Linked DNA regions of Homo sapiens: all the other regions are linked to region 2. The links come from fine-mapping of genetic effects on gene expression. A gene starts in region 2. Each other region holds a variant in brackets. All regions are shown on one strand. Distances are between the middles of the regions. Region 1 overlaps TRPM6 (transient receptor potential cation channel subfamily M member 6). Region 2 holds the start of TRPM6 (transient receptor potential cation channel subfamily M member 6). Region 3 overlaps TRPM6 (transient receptor potential cation channel subfamily M member 6).

Evidence for each region. PIP is the estimated chance that this variant, and not a neighbour inherited with it, causes the effect. A credible set is the group of variants that fine-mapping cannot tell apart.
Region 1: its variant is the best candidate, but not a certain one, in a credible set for the expression of TRPM6 in whole blood (TOPMed, PIP 0.66).
Region 3: its variant is the best candidate, but not a certain one, in a credible set for the expression of TRPM6 in whole blood (INTERVAL, PIP 0.69).

What each region holds. Positions count from the first base shown.
Region 1 is chr9:74,844,912-74,850,141 of GRCh38, forward strand. The region is part of intron 3 of TRPM6 (transient receptor potential cation channel subfamily M member 6); the gene reads right to left. It also overlaps the pseudogene RNY4P1. Among named protein-coding and RNA genes, the nearest start is that of TRPM6, 40 kb to the right of the region's middle. The variant C/G (reference allele first, on the strand shown) is at 3,034.
Region 2 is chr9:74,885,393-74,890,622 of GRCh38, forward strand. It overlaps TRPM6 (transient receptor potential cation channel subfamily M member 6), which reads right to left and starts at 2,529. Exons shown (of 39, transcript NM_017662.5): 1 at 2,432-2,529. The coding sequence starts at 2,464. RefSeq lists an enhancer at 1,621-1,915.
Region 3 is chr9:74,810,906-74,816,102 of GRCh38, forward strand. TRPM6 (transient receptor potential cation channel subfamily M member 6) reads right to left here. Exons shown (of 39, transcript NM_017662.5): 12 at 1,394-1,528. Among named protein-coding and RNA genes, the nearest start is that of TRPM6, 74 kb to the right of the region's middle. The variant A/T (reference allele first, on the strand shown) is at 2,094.

The sequences.
Region 1 (5,230 bases), 40 kb before region 2:
TATAGGATTATTAATTGGCCTAATTTCAACACTGTGGCATCTCAAGGTAGAGGGAGAGAGACAGGATCGGTCAGTGGAATAGTCAGAACATATATAACATTTATCTAATTGGTTTGCCCCATCTTATATGGGTGCAGTTCATGACACTCCAAAACAATTACAATAGTGACATCAAAGATCGCCGATTAAAGATTGTCATAACAGATACAATAATGATAAAATAAAAAAGTTTGAAATATTGCGAGAATTATTAAAATGTGATGCAGAGACAAGAAATGAACATGTGCCACTGGAAAAATGGCACTGACAGACTTGCTTAATGCAAGGTTCCCACAAACCTCCACATTATAAAAAATGCAATATCAGTAAAGCACAATAAAGTAACATACATGAGGTATGCCTGTACTAAAAATCTCTTGCATACTCATGTTCATAGCAGCATTATTCTGAATATCCACAAAGTGGAAGCAACCCAAATGTCCATCGTGGAGAAGTGGACAAACAAAATGTGGTATATAAATACCATGGTATATGATTCAGCCTTAAAAAGGAAGAAAATTCTGACATATGCTATAACATGGAAAAACATTGAAGACATTATGCTAATTAAAAGAAGCCAATCACAAAAAGATAAACAGGCCAAGGGTAGTGGCTCACGCCCGTAATTCCAGCACATTGGGAGGGTGAGGTGGGAGAATCGCTTGAGGCCAAGAGTTCATGACCAGCCTGGGCAACATAGCAAAACCCTGTCTCTACAAAAAAATATAAAAAATTAGCCCTGTGTGGTGGAGCAAGTCTGTAATCTCAGCTACTAGGGAGGCAGGAAAATCACTTGAGCCTGGGAGGCAGAGGCTGCAGTGAGCCGAAATTACATCACTGCACTCCAGCCTGGGCAACAAAGCAAAACTCTGTCTCAAAACAAAACGAAAAGTAAGAATAATTTATCATTTTATGCATTATCTACAACATGTTGAATAAAACTAACAAAAATACAAATGTAGAGGGAAAGAGTTATAATTTAGATGAGTAATAAGAGCCTCTCTGACATTTTGGGATGGATGATTTAAAAAAAATTTACGTAAAAAATAAACAAAAATATCCTCCCTAGGAAATCAATTTGACATCAAGAGAGTTCTTATCTCTTCAAAATGAATATCAAGAAGCAGAGAAAATTTGTCATTTATTATAAATAATTGAGTACAGTTCCTACTGTGACTTTCACCTAACCTTGATTAATCAACAGATAAGTTGATCAGGTAAGTTGATTCTGCTTAGCTGCCTAGATATTAAATTTCTGTTTTCTTTAGATTTCTTGTCAATACAAACAAGTCAATTTATGGCCCAGTACATGAACAGACATTTAAGGCGCAAATTGTTTGCTTCTTTTTTTTCCCTATAATTAAAGCTCATTCTCTTCTTAAAGGGAAATTCATATTTCTACATTTATGTACCTCCTTTGCAAGAACGGCCCTATCATATTATTTTAAAGTTCTTGCTATACCTAATTCTCATTTAAAACAATTATATTGTTTTCTGGTATGAACTTCAGTGACACATTTTATATGAGAATTAGATAGGTATAGCAGGAACTTTAAAAACTGAAAACATTTTTCTTATCGATATTTTAGAATTTTTTTTCTTTTTTTTGTGAAACAGAGTCTCTCTCTCTGTTGCCCAGGCTGGAATGCAGTGTGACATGATCTCTGCTCACTGCCACCTCCACCTCCTGGATTCAAGCAATTCTCCTGCCTCAGCCTCCCAAGTAGCTGGGATTACAGGGGTGTGTCACCACGCCTGGATAACTTGTTTGTATTTTTAGTAGAGACAGGGTTTCACCATGTTGCCCAGGCTGGCCTTGAACTGCTGACCTCAGGTGATCCACCCACTTCGGCCTTCCAACGTGCTGGGATTACAGTCGTGAGCCACTGCTCCCGGCTATTTTACAATATTTTTCTAAAAAGCACACTTTTAAGAAATTATCTTCATCTATTAAAATCTTCAGACTTGGGTTTGTTTACACGTTCCAAAAAGCCTAGTCATCAGTCCTATGAGTCTACAAACCACACATGGCTCCATGCACTAATCCACCATGACATTATTCCTTTGCTACCTTGAGTACACAGACGAGGTGTTCTGCAAGCCAACAATGGTCTTTTCACAATTAGGTGCTGCTATTCACACACCATCAAGTTTTAACTGAAAATGGCTGACAATGTCAAGTACTAGCAAGGACACATTTCCTTTGTAAAAAAATTTTTTTAAATTATTATAACATTCTCACTTTTTAAAATTTTCACTGTTTAGTTTGAGATAAGGTCTTACTCTGTCACCCAGGCTGGAGTGCAGTGGTGTGACCATGGCTCACTGCAGCCTCAACTTCCCGTGCTCAATCAATTCTCCCACCTCAGCCTCCCATGCAGCTGGAATTACAGGCAACGACTATCACGTCCGGCTAATTTGGGGTTTTGCCATGTTGCCCAAGCTGATCTTGAACTCCTGGGCTCCAACAATCCTTCTCCCTCAGTCTCCCAAAGTGCTGGGATTTTTAATCATTATTTTAAGATGTTAATTTGCATTCAATATTGTCAAAGGCAGGCTGCTCTGATGGTAGTAGGTTATCAGAACTTACTAACATTAGTGTCACTAAAGTTGGTATACAACCCCCCACTGCTAAATTTGACTGGCTTTAATATATATATAGTCATATATATAGTCATATGTATAGTCATATACAGTCATATATATAGTCATATATATAGTCATATATAGTCAAAGTCATATATATATAGTCATATATAGTCAAAGACAAAGTATACTCTAAACCATTGTCATTCTTGATTTTAAGACCCATAAGTAACTTTGTGTCTCTGATTAAAGTTATGAAGCCTACACTCAGGAATTCTGAAAAATAGATAAATAATGAAGTTATGAAGCCCGTCTCAAGAAAAAATATATATGTAGCAGTAGTTCTCCCTTACCTTCAGGGCATATGTTCCAAGACCTCCAGCGGGTGCCCAAAACCGCAGATAGTAC[C/G]AAACCTAATTGCTGTCAATCAGAACAGGTTTCTGTTCATGTCTTCCACCCACAAATGCAACGACTGTTTCATTTTAACTAAGCATTTATCAAAATTATGGCCCTGTGGCCATAATTTTGCAACTGAAGGTACAGCAGTAAAACTGGCATGAATTTCTTTTTCTTTCTTCGCAATTTCATGGATAGAAGATGGATTTGTACCACAGATCTTAGCAACCTCAGCTAACTTTTATTCTTAGCTTATTAAGCTGAGAACTTTCACCTTTTCACTTAAAGAAAGCACTTTATGGCTCTTTGGCATGTCCAAATTGCCTGCATCACTACTCTTGCACTTTGGAGCCATTATGAAGGGTTACTTGGATTCAAGTACTGCAATACCAAGACAGTCAATCAGATAACCCTGACAGCTACTAAGCCACTAACGGGTGGGGAGCGTCTGTAGCATGGCTAGGCTGGACAAAGGAATGATTCGTGTCCTAGGTTGGACAAAGCAAATGGCAAGAGATTTTATCATGCCACTCTGAATGGCACGCAATTTTAAACCCATAAATTGCTTTTTTTCTGGGATTTTCTATTTAATCTTTTTGGCCCATGAGAAACTGAAACAATGGAAGGTAAAATGGCAGAAAAGGTGGGACTACTCCTTCCAAATTTCTAAACCTTCTTTAATTAAAAATTGCATCCTGGTCCACAGTTTTCCTCAACTGCCCTGCCTCCAGCTAGATAGTAATGCCTGCAATGCCCCGCCTGAAAGAGTCAATATTCTTCTTGACAGCTTTTCATTCTAAATTTCTGTGTCTATATTCTGATGCACAATTAATTCCATGGACTACGTAAGGTGCAGTATACATTAGTAAATGTTATATTTAACTTCTATATATCTGCTTATCTGATGACAAATACATACAGTGAGAAGAAAAAAACGTAAAGAAATCTAGACAGGGCCAGAGCTCAATTTCCAAAATGTTCCAAAGAGACAATAGAGACAAATACATTTGAGTACATGGTGGAGAAATGTGGCTAGCTGTTATGGACTGAATTGTTTTCTGACAAAATTCATATGCTGAAGCTCTGACCCCTAATGTGACTGCATTAATTACCTCCTTAAAGTTTAGTTAAATTCAGCAGGGCACGGTGTCTCACGCCTTTCATCCCAGCACTTCGGGAGGCCGAGGTGGGCAGATCACCTGAGGTCAGGAGTTCGAGACCAACCTGGCCAACATGGCGAAACCTCATCTCTACTAAAAATACAAAAAATTAGCCAGGTGTGGTGGCAGGTGCCTGTAATCCCAGCTACTCGGGAGGCTAACACAGGAGAATCGCTTGAACCCAGGAGGCGGAGGTTGCAGTGAACTGAGATTGCACCATTGCACTCCAGCCTGGGAAATAAGAGTGAAACTTCATCTCAAAAAAAAAAAAAAAAAAAAGTTAAGTTAAATTAAGTCATAAGGATGAAGGATTAATTTGATAGAAATGATGTCCTTAGAAGAAGGAGAGATCCCCAGGATGTGTGCACACAGAGAAAAACCATCTGAAGACACAATAAGAAGGTGGCCATCTGCAAGCCAAGGAGAGATCACAAGAGAAACCAACCCTGCAAACAACTTGGTCTTGGATTTCTGACCTCCAGAACTGTGAAAAGTTCATTTCTGTTGTTTAAGCCACCCAGTTTGTGGTATTTTGTTATGGTAGCTCTAGGTGACTAAAATCCTGGCTATAGAACAGTGGATTGTACCTGACAAGCAGGGGAACCAAAAACAAGAGCTGAAGTGCAGGCAGCCTAGGCCATAAACAGGAAGCATCTAGGAAGCGATGTGTCCTGGAGCAAAAGCACTGGACCAGGAGATGGCCAACGTCATGCAAATCTCTACTCTCCCAAAGCCTCTATTTCTTCAACTGCAGTAATGTAAGGATTGGTTGGACAAGGTGGTCTCTAATGCCTTCCATTTCCTTTCATTGTGTAACTGAGAACCTGTAGCAATGCTCAGTGTTGCAGGACCCTGCTCTGAAAGAGGTGATCAGTGGGCTAAGGATACTTATTGTGCATCTGCTGTATTGAGCAGCATATGAAGTAGCACATGGTGAGAAGTTACAGGGGAAACAGAAGTGTCTACAACTTACAATCTCTTCAGAGAACTAGAACAGGGCTGGGCGCAGTGGCTCACGCCTGTAATGCCAGCACTTTGGGAGGCCAAGG
Region 2 (5,230 bases):
TCTAGAGATACAGACAAATAGTAACTAGTTAAAAGAGATGAACATGATTACTTCTCTTAAAAAGCAGGAAGTGATGGAGGGTTCTACTGTTTTTAGATATTAACCCTATGGAATTAATTGATTCTGAACAATGAGAACGTAAAACTTCAATAAAACTAAGAAGTAAAGAAAAAAGGCACTAGTGAGACTCACATCATAATATCTTACCTAACAGTGATGGATTTTACAGAAAATAGTTGCCATGTAGACTTCTGATGTGTCACAAAGGAATAACTGAGTTATAGGTAGGATGGTCACTTTCAGTTCCAGCATGGTATTGATTCTACCAGAAGTATAATGAAAATCACTCAGATTATTTGGGCTGTTTATACTGAAAACTCATGATTTAAAACACAGTGAGGCCAGGCACAGTGGCTCAGGCCTGTAATCTTGGCACTTTGGGAGGCCAAAGAGGATTGCTTGAGCCCAGGAGTTCAAGACCAGTCTGGGCAACACAGCGAGACTCTGTCTCAAAAAAATAAAATAAAATAAAAAGTGAGAAATTTGAAAAAGAAGGAAAAAGAGAGAAGCCATATTTCAGGCACAGTATTTACCAAATGCTTGATAGTTTTGGCATAGATGTCCTATCCAAAAAATTAACTATGATAGATAATTGTAAATAGGCAAGATAAGACCAAAATTTGTGACAAATTGCAACATATTGCACGATTCTTTCCCTTCACCTCTGGTATAATGATCTCAAATGCTATTCATGCCCTTGTCTATCAAGACAAGTTTAACACTACCAAAGGGTACTAGTCTCCAGTTTTGGCCCAAAAAACAAAACTCATGCTAACTCCTACCCTAGATGGTTACCACTCCTGGTGGGAAACATAAGAAACAACCAGATTCTTAAAGTCAAGCCCAGATTCCAGTCTGGCCAAAATAGCTAACGCTTTATCAGTCCTGTAAGAACCCAAAGCAGATGACAGTGAAACATCAAAATCTGTATACAGGGGGAAAGAAATTGAATAACTCGTTTCCCACTTTAACAATTAAAGGTGATCATTTCTCCCTAGAACAAATAATCACAAATGATGTGTATGACTAGAACATCTATGTTCTCAGTGTCTTTTTTTCTCTTTTTTTTTTTTCTTTTTTATGTTCTCCGTGTCTTAAAGCACTGACCTGAGTTCAAATCTCAAATCTGCTTTTCTCCTTTGGTTTCATTTTCCTCACCTGTAAACCGGTGGAGATGGGAGAGACAGGATACTTGGACTTTATAGGATTACTGCCAGGATGAAATAGTTAAGAATCCCAAACTCTTACAACCTGCTAAATACGTCAGGCATTATTCTAAGTGCAAATGGCATGTAGCATTTCAATTCATCTTGAAACTACAAATCGTATTATCCCATTTTCCAGATGAGAAAGCCGAAGAACAGATGTTAACTCGCCCAAAATCACAGGTAGTGATGCAGCTGGGATGCTAATTCAGGCTACCTGGCTCCAGAGCATATGTTCTTATCAGAGCAGGCTGAAATGAGCTAACGTTTGCTAAGCTGCCTGGACTATTCCTGAAATACAATGTGCTCAATTATACTTATTTTTCATACACAGTGTGAGAAAGTCCAGACAAAATAGGCGAGACCAAGAAATTACCAGGATCTCCACTACTCTCCCAAGCGTCTCCAGTGCTCTCCCAACAGCCAGGAGCACCCTCCCTCTCCAAGCCCCCAGAACTTCCTGTTGCGCCATATGCCAGCGGTGGAGAGGAGCCAGCGGGGACTCCTGAGGTTGCAAGTCCGGGCGGCGCCGCGTTGGGGAAGGAAGCGGACTGCGGCGGGGCGGGTGTTTACCGTAACCGGCGCTGTCATCGCTCCGGGACTCCTGCACGGGGAACACTGGGCGCACGGGGACGCGCAGGGGCGCGGAGGGACGGCCGTCTGGGCACTTCTCCAGCCGCCTCGGAAAGCCGCGACCCCCGGCTAGTCAGCGTCCGGGTCTGAGATCTGTGCCCGTGGCAGCTCAAAACGCGCCTTCTCTCCTCCGGATTCTCAGCTCAAGCCACCTCCGAACTCCTCTCCCTCCGGCCCGGAGCGGAATCAGAGCTGCCTCCTCTCCCGGGGTGTTTCCCACCGCCCCGAGCTGAACCCCCGACCCCCGCTAGGTTTCCGCTCTGACACCACCTCCGCTATGGCCGCATCCCAGCTCTTGAAACGGGGGCTGCGGGACCTGCCCTGTAGTAGCGTACACTACCTTAGATAGGATAATCATCTTTGGGTGGAGACCAGAGAACTTGAAAGCCGGTATTTCATAAATCCTAGCTATTCTAGATCCTCGTTAGATGTAGTGTCCCTGGCCCCACCCACTTCTATCTAAGGCCGGGGGCGCAGATCTAGCGAATCGCCTAAGGTCCTTGTTCCCCGCCAGTCGAGCAGCCTGAGCTTACCTGCAAGCGCTCCAAGACAGGTTGTTCTTTCATCTTTGATTTGCAGGCCCTGCTCCCAAAGCCCTGTCTGAGCTTTTAACTGTGGAGGCAGAAACTCTGGGCTCCACCTCCACACGCTGCCTTTTACAGCCCAGTGGATCTGTCACAATACCTTTCGGCTTCAGTTACCTAACTGCCTAGAAAAGAAGGTGACTCTCAGTTTCCTTCGATAAAAGAAGAATAACGAGGATCAAATGGGATGGCCACTGTCATCACAGACATCCTTTGTAGTAATGTATTGTTACTGTTGAGTCAGTGTGGGGCGTGAGGAGATCAGAGATTTAAGCTAACGCACTGCTTTTACTACCTGTGACTTATTGGGCATGTCAAGCCTCAGTTTATTTATCTATGCAATGGGAATAATAGGGACAAAAATCCAGTTCCCTCACAAGGTTACAATGAACAAAGGAAATCACTTAATGTGCTTCATGTGTAACATACAATACAAATGTTTTGTTATTTCTGGTTTTTTTTTCATTTTTTTTGTTTGTTTTGTTTTGTTTTGGTGGATTCCTCTGGATAGGCATCTTCTCTTTCTTTCTTTCTTTCTTTCTTTCTTTCTTTCTTTCTTTCTTTCTTTCTTTCTCTCTTTCTTTCTTTCTTCTTTTTTTAGAGATGGAGTCTTGCTCTGTTGCCCAGGCTGGAGTGCAGTGGCAGGATCATGGCTCACTGCATCCTTGACCTCCCAGGCTCAAGTGATCCTTCCACTTCAGGCTCCAGAGAGTAGTTGGGACTACAGGCACACACCACAGTGCCTGGCTAATTTTATTTATTTATTTATTTATTTATTTATTTATTTATTTATTTATTTTAGAAATGGGGTCTCACTATGTTGCCCAGGCTGGTCTCAAACTCTGGACTCAAGCGATCTTCATGCCTCAGCCTTCCAGAGTGCTAGGATTACAGGCGTGAGCCACCATGCCCGGCCTAGGCAGTCTTGATTAAGGTTGTGGTCAGTGATTTGGGGTGGATCCCAGGGTGTTGGCAGAGGTGGCACAAAGCACACAGGCAAAATGATGCTCACATTATTACAAGTGTAATTAACAATGCTAGTCATTCATCCCTGACAACCGACTTAAAATTAGGGACACCTACTCATTTAGTTTATTATGAATTTTTGCCTGGTGAATTCACATTTGCAGACAGTTTACAGGTTTTTTCCCCTCATTTCTCAATGTGGTTTTAATAAGCATTTCTTTGTTTATTGGAAAATTGTAATCTCTCATATGTGTATTGGCATTTTGTTGTTTTTCTTTTTGTTGTTGTTGCTGTTGTTGTTGAGCCAGGGTCTCGCTCTGTCACCGGGCTGGAGTGCAGTGGCACTATGTCGGCTCACTGCAACCTCCACCTCCTGGGCTCAAGCAATCCTCCAGCCTCAGCCCCCGCAAGTAGCTAGGACTACATGTGCAAGCCACTACACCTGGCTAATTTTTGTAATTTTTGTAGATACGGAGTTTCACCATGTTGCCCAGGCTGGTCTCGAACTTCTGAACTCAAGCAATCCACCCACTTCAGCCTCCCTAAGTGCTAGGCATTTGTTGTTCTTCTATAAACACATTTAATCTCCTTTCCTCTCCTTAACCCATCTTCTTTAAAGCGTTAATCTGTAAACAGTTAACAGGTTCTGAAAGCTCTTCTAAGGCAAGTAAATCCTTCTCGATCTCTGTCTTCCATACAATTTCTTTGTTAGGTCTCTTACAGTGACTGGGTCAGAGAGTTCTCAGAAATCTTCAGACCCACCAAGAAGAGTAGCCATTTGGAACTCAAGATTTGTAAGAAGTCTACCATCTTCTAGTTTACCATCTTTGGTAAACCTACATGTTAGGATGATCATATATTCTTTTCAGATCAAGCTTCAAGGCATTTAGAGCCTGAAATACAAGGGCAATGTGAAGTGCTTAAAGCATTGAATGTACTAGTTTACAAGCTGCCTTTGGTTCCCAAGCTGTATCAGAAACATCTGAGGCATTTGTCAAAAGTGCAGATTCCCAGGCTCCAACCACCCTACCCAGATCTCTTGTATCAGGATTTATAGGGTGGGGCCCAGGAATCTGTATCTTTCACAAGCACTTTAATCAGTTGTCAAACTTGTATATAAAACTTCTTGTCCAGGCATGGTGGCTCATGCCTGTAATCCCAGCATTTAGGGAGGCCGAGGCAGGAGAATCACTTGAACTCATGATTTCGAGACCAGCCTGGTCAACATGGCAAAACCCCATCTGTACAAAAAAAAAAAACAAAAATTAGCCACGCGTGGTGGCTTACACTTGTGGTGCCAGCTACTTGGATGGCTGAGGTGAGAGGATTGCTTGAGCCCAGGAGGTCGGGGCTGCAGTGAGCTATGATGGCACCACTGCACTCCAGACTGGGCAACAGAGTAAGACCATATCTCAAAAAATAAATAAATAAAAAGAAAACTATTCTGGGCACAAACATACCTATGCCCAGGGTAGCTGTGAAAATTAAATTTTAAAATATTCATTAGTAGTCTAGTGTGGTTTGATTCAGGCCAACAAATATTTCCTGAACATAGACTGTTTGTCAGGCATCATGCTGGGCACCAGGAAAACAAAGATGAATAAGACATTGTCCAGTCTACAAGTAGCTCAAGTTTATAAGAGGAAGATGAACAATCAAAAATGAAACTGGGAAGAGGTGGAGCAAGAAGGTGGAATAGAAGGCCCCGATCATCCCCTTTGTAGGAAAACCAAATTCAACAACTATGTACGCACAAAAAAAGCACCTTTCTAAGAACCAAAA
Region 3 (5,197 bases), 75 kb before region 2:
ATTACCATGTGCTGGGGGGTAAAACCTTTACTTCAGAATGCATAAGTAACTGAGAATACTGAAAATTGTGTTCAATATTTTTAGTAACAATGCTTAAGCCAATTAATTCTAAAGAAGGTGTTTTCCAAGAGAAGATGTATTTATATGAAATATTTTTCAAAGCAAGATGCAAATATGTAGATAATAAAGACTTTATGTGATAAGAGATAGAAATGAATCTTAGGTAATTTATTACTATCCTTTATCATACAATTACAAATCCTATCACACGAGCACATTCCAGCAACAAATATTTATTGAATACTTACTATATTCAATTAGGGATTCAATGACAAATATAAGCACTATTTTCCTGGAGTGTTTATAATAATAGAAAAGAGTGGCTACTTACACTAAAAAATAACCAACAATATGTGTGGGCTCAAAAAGAGTTACAAATAATTGGTACTCTAGGAACAAATCACTGTGAACTAACTGCAGTAATCAAGAAGACAAGACTTGAATAAATCATTGAAGAAAGAATAAGATTTAAAGGACAAGGAAGGCTATTTCAAGAAGTGTCCATGGCTTGAGCAATTGGTGTTTTCACAGTGTGTAAGTCAGGCTAGTTTCAACAAAGGGTTTACATGGGAAAGGTACAGGAACAGTATTTTAATAGTGGCCTTAGGTTGAGATACTTCCAATAACTCAATAAAAGGTAATTTGTTCTTATTCACAATTTAGTCTTTAACTATGTTTTACTAGGATAAAATAGAATTGGTAAGAATGTTTCTCCTTTGGTTGAAGAGTCTATCTATAAACTATCTTTGTACAAGAATATTCAAGGAGATAAATAAGTCTTAAGCTGATCAATAAATAATTACCAGGCAAGGTGTCAGACCCCTGGCAATGGAAAGTGACTGGCTTGCAGGTAGTAAGAATAATTTACTGACAACAGTATAGATTTTGAAAAAGGAACGTTTTATTAGAAGGAAAGAATGCTGGAGAAGAGTGCAGAAGGGAGCTTCAGCAAGAGAGAACTGAGCTCACAGCAGTGGATTTTCCTCAGGAGTATTTATGGACCTTAAAGTGGGAGCTTAAGGGTAATTTGAACCATGTTAGCCATGTAGGTCATGATAAATGATTGCATTTGTAGCCATTTTGGTGCCTTCATGTCAGGAAGGGTTGCACAATGAGTTTTAACATGTATGCATTTTGAAGATGTACAGAAATTCTAGTTACTTATAAATGTTGGGGAAAGAAGCCTGGAACTAGATCCAGCTTCAGATAATAGGGAAGTCCAGCTACTTCTAATTTCCTCAGATAAGGAGTTTTGCCTCTGCATGGTCTGCTTGATGATCCTTGCTCTTCTTGAATCTGGAGGGAAATGATTGATGAAATGTTCCATACTCACTGTATTGTAGAGCTCTTCCAGTCGAGGGATGGTAAGAAAGCGATGGAGGTTCACTCCATATTCTATTAAGAGCTTCACAAAATCCACCCGATCCATCACTAAAGCATCTGACATTGCTTGTTCCAGGGCATCAGGCTTCAGAAAGCACAAATAAGAAATATAAAGACAATTAAGAAAGTAGAAATAACTAAAGAATTACATGTTTTTGAACTCAAAATTACACAAACACAATAATTTTAAAATAAAATCCTGCCATCAGTGGGTACAGAAAAAAAAAAAAAAGGAAAAAATTTAAATACAGTCTTACTAGGCCAGGCTCAGTGGCGCACACCTGTAATCCTAGCACCCTTGGAGGCTGAGGCAGGTGGATTGCTTGAGTTTAGGTGTTCCAAACCAGCCTTGGCAACACAGCAAAACCCTGTCTCTACGAAAAATACAAAAATTAGCCAGGCATAGTGGCATGCACCTGTGGTCCCAGCTAATTGGGAGGCTGAGGTGGGAGGACCAATTGAGCCCAAGGGGTCAAGGCTGCAGTAAGCCATGAATGCATCACTACACTCCAGCCTGGGCAACAGGGCAAGACCCTGTCTTGAATGAATGAATGAATGAATAAATAGTCTTACTAAGAAATGTGCAGGACTTAAGTGAAGACATCTTGAATAAATCAAAGAACATCCCATGTACTTGGATGGGAAAACTG[A/T]TTATTGTAAAGATCTCGAAGCTTCCCAAATGAATGAATGTACAGGCTTAATGCAATTCTGATAGACATTCAAGGTTTCTTCTTCTTCTTTTGTTTTTGTTACTTGTCATGTGTCCATTTAGACTCTACCTGGCTTCTAGGCACAAATGGCAAGTTGAACATGCTCATCTAATTTTTCTCCCACTCAAAACTTCATTAAAACTACAGTAAAGGGATTTTTGTTACAAAATAAATCTACAAGGACAAGGAGGACAAGAGTGGAGACAAGAATGCAACATTTTGGAAGCTGGAAAGCAGATGGTCAAGTCATAATTGACTGAGCAGTCACCAGAAAGCCAAATAGTAGAAGTGGAAAATGTCAAGAGACAAACAGATTTATACTACAGAATTCCAACAAAAACAAAATACATGTATACATGCTGAATCCCTAATGTTGGGGTCTTTCCAGTCATCTTTCCCCTTTGAGTCCCATAACACTAGCAACAAGGCTTACACCTTCCAGTCAGGGAACTAGAGGATTCTTTTCTGATAATGTCACCAATACAAGAGAAAAGACATGAATATGTTGGTATCTGGGGGCCCCTGAACTAATGGCAGTCAGATCACCCTACTGTGAAACTCAAACCTATAGGCAACCTCCAACTACAGGCTCGGAATTTCCAAAGAGTTTTTTATCCGCTACACTTAAACAAAAAGACCAAAACAAACAGATCAAAAAACATCAACTAGCAGGAAGCAGACAATCCAAGAAGAAGAAAACTTCAAAAGAGCTCTCATTCATATCCTCAAAAAGGTAAAAGAAGATATCGTATTCTGGGCCGGGCACAGGGGCTCACGCCTATAATCCCAGCACTTTGGGAGGCTGAGGCAGGCATATCACCTGTGGTCAGGAGTTCGAAACCAGCCTGGCCAACATGGTGAAACTCCATCTCTACTAAAAATACAAAAATTAGCCAGGTGTGGTGGCAGGAACCTGTAATCCCAGCTACTCGGGAAGCTGAGGCAGGAGAATTGCTTGAATCTGAGAGGTGGACATTGCAATAAGCCAAGATTGTACCACTGCACTCCAGCCTGGGCCACAGAGTGAGACTCCATCTCAAAGAAAAAGAAAATATTGGATTCTGGATGCTAATGAAAAACATAGGGGAGGGTGCAATCAGGGAGCAAGTTTGCTGTCACAAATTAATAGACTGCCAGGCATAGAAAGACAAATTTACATGTGCTCAATAATTCGTAGGAGCTGAAAATGAAAACAATTGAATCCATGGAGATGGAGAGCAGAAGGATGGTTACCAGAAGCTGGGAAGAGTACTGAGGGGGATAAGGGGGATAATTAATAGGTACCAAAAAATAGTTAGAAAGAATGAATAAGATCTAGTATTTGATAGCACAACAGAATGACTATAGTCAATAATAATTTAATTGTACATTTTAAAATAATTAAGTATTATAATTGGATTGTTTGTAACAAAGGACAAATGCTTGAGGGGATGGATACCTCATTTACTTTGATGTGATTATTACACATTGTATGCCTGTATCAAAATATCCCAGACACCCCATAAATATATACACCCACTGTGAGCACACAAAAATTAAAAACTAAAAAAAGAAGAAATTAATAGATTCATAGTATGCTACCAGAAAAGAAAAGCTTCATAGAAGGCTTGAAAATTAAAGTTGAGGCTCAGCCTATAATCCCAGCACTTTGGGAGGCTGAGGCAGGTGGATTGCTTGAGCCTAGGAGTTCGACCAGCCTAGCCAACATGGCAAACCCCTGTCTCTACTAAAAATACAAAAATTAGCCTGGTGTAGTGGCACACACCTGTGGTCCCAGCTACTCAGGAGGCTGAGGTGGGAGGATTGCTTGGTGTGGGAGGTGGAGGTTGAAGTGAGCCGAGATCATGCAACTGCACTCCAGTATAGGTGACAGAGTGAGACCCTATCTCAAAAATAAATAAATTAGTTAATTGATTATTAAAATTAAAATAAAAAAATAAAGTCCAGCAAAGCTACCAAAGGAAAGATAGGGAACATGGGAGGAAAGAGATAAGAATATTAGAGGAGCAGTCCATAAGGTCCAATATTCAAATAATAGGAATTACAAAAGAGAACAAAGGTTGGGGGTGTTACGGAAGAGAAGGGAATGGAATGCAATGAAAACATATGATTGCCAAGTTGAAATCATGTGCCCAACAAAATGGATACAGAGACTCACAACAACACACAGCATAACACTGGAAAAGAAAGATTTTTTTAACTTCCAGATAGGAAAAAAAAATGGTGACAAAGAATCTGAAAACAAAAAAGAAGTGTTTACTTCTCAATAGAAATTCTGGGTGCTGGAAACTAGGCATTCAAATTTCTGTAGGAAAAAATAGTTTAAATCATGAATTAAAATACACCCAAACATGTAAGTCCTCAAAATATGTATCTCTCATACTCCCTTTCTCAGGAACTTATTGACACATGTATACCATCAAAATGAATGAGTAAACAAAGAGGAAGACAAGGACATAGAAGACATGCCCTCTAACATGGGAAAGAGGCAAGGGAATCCCCAAGATGATGAGGGTGCATCCCGGGATGACAGCTGTGCACCAGGAGGAGAAGGAAACTGGTCCACATTGCAGCCGTGAGGCCCACAAGACAGAAGTGTTGAAAAATTTCTGAAACTAAATGAACCAAAATATAGCAATATGACATTATTTAGAAATATGGAGATTTATAAGTGTTAGAAAAATCAAAAACATCTTAAGTACTAGCTCTTGTGATTAGCAGGGCAGAGAACTACCATCTTTTAAAATTGCCTTTTAATATCATTTGATATTTTAAACAATGTGCATGTATTAGCTTGGCCCAAAAATAATATACCTGTAATACAGCCACAACTATAATCTTTTAAAATGAATGTTAATAGTGATTATCATTAGCATTATGGGTAATCTTTCTTCTTTTTTATGTTTTCACTAATTTCTAATGTGAGCACCTACTACATTTTAAAGCAAAAAGTAAACTTTGAGTTTTAAATAACAAGATAGAAATCTACCCAAAAATAAATTAAAAATTGTACGCCAGGCACAGTGGCTCACGCCTGTAATTCT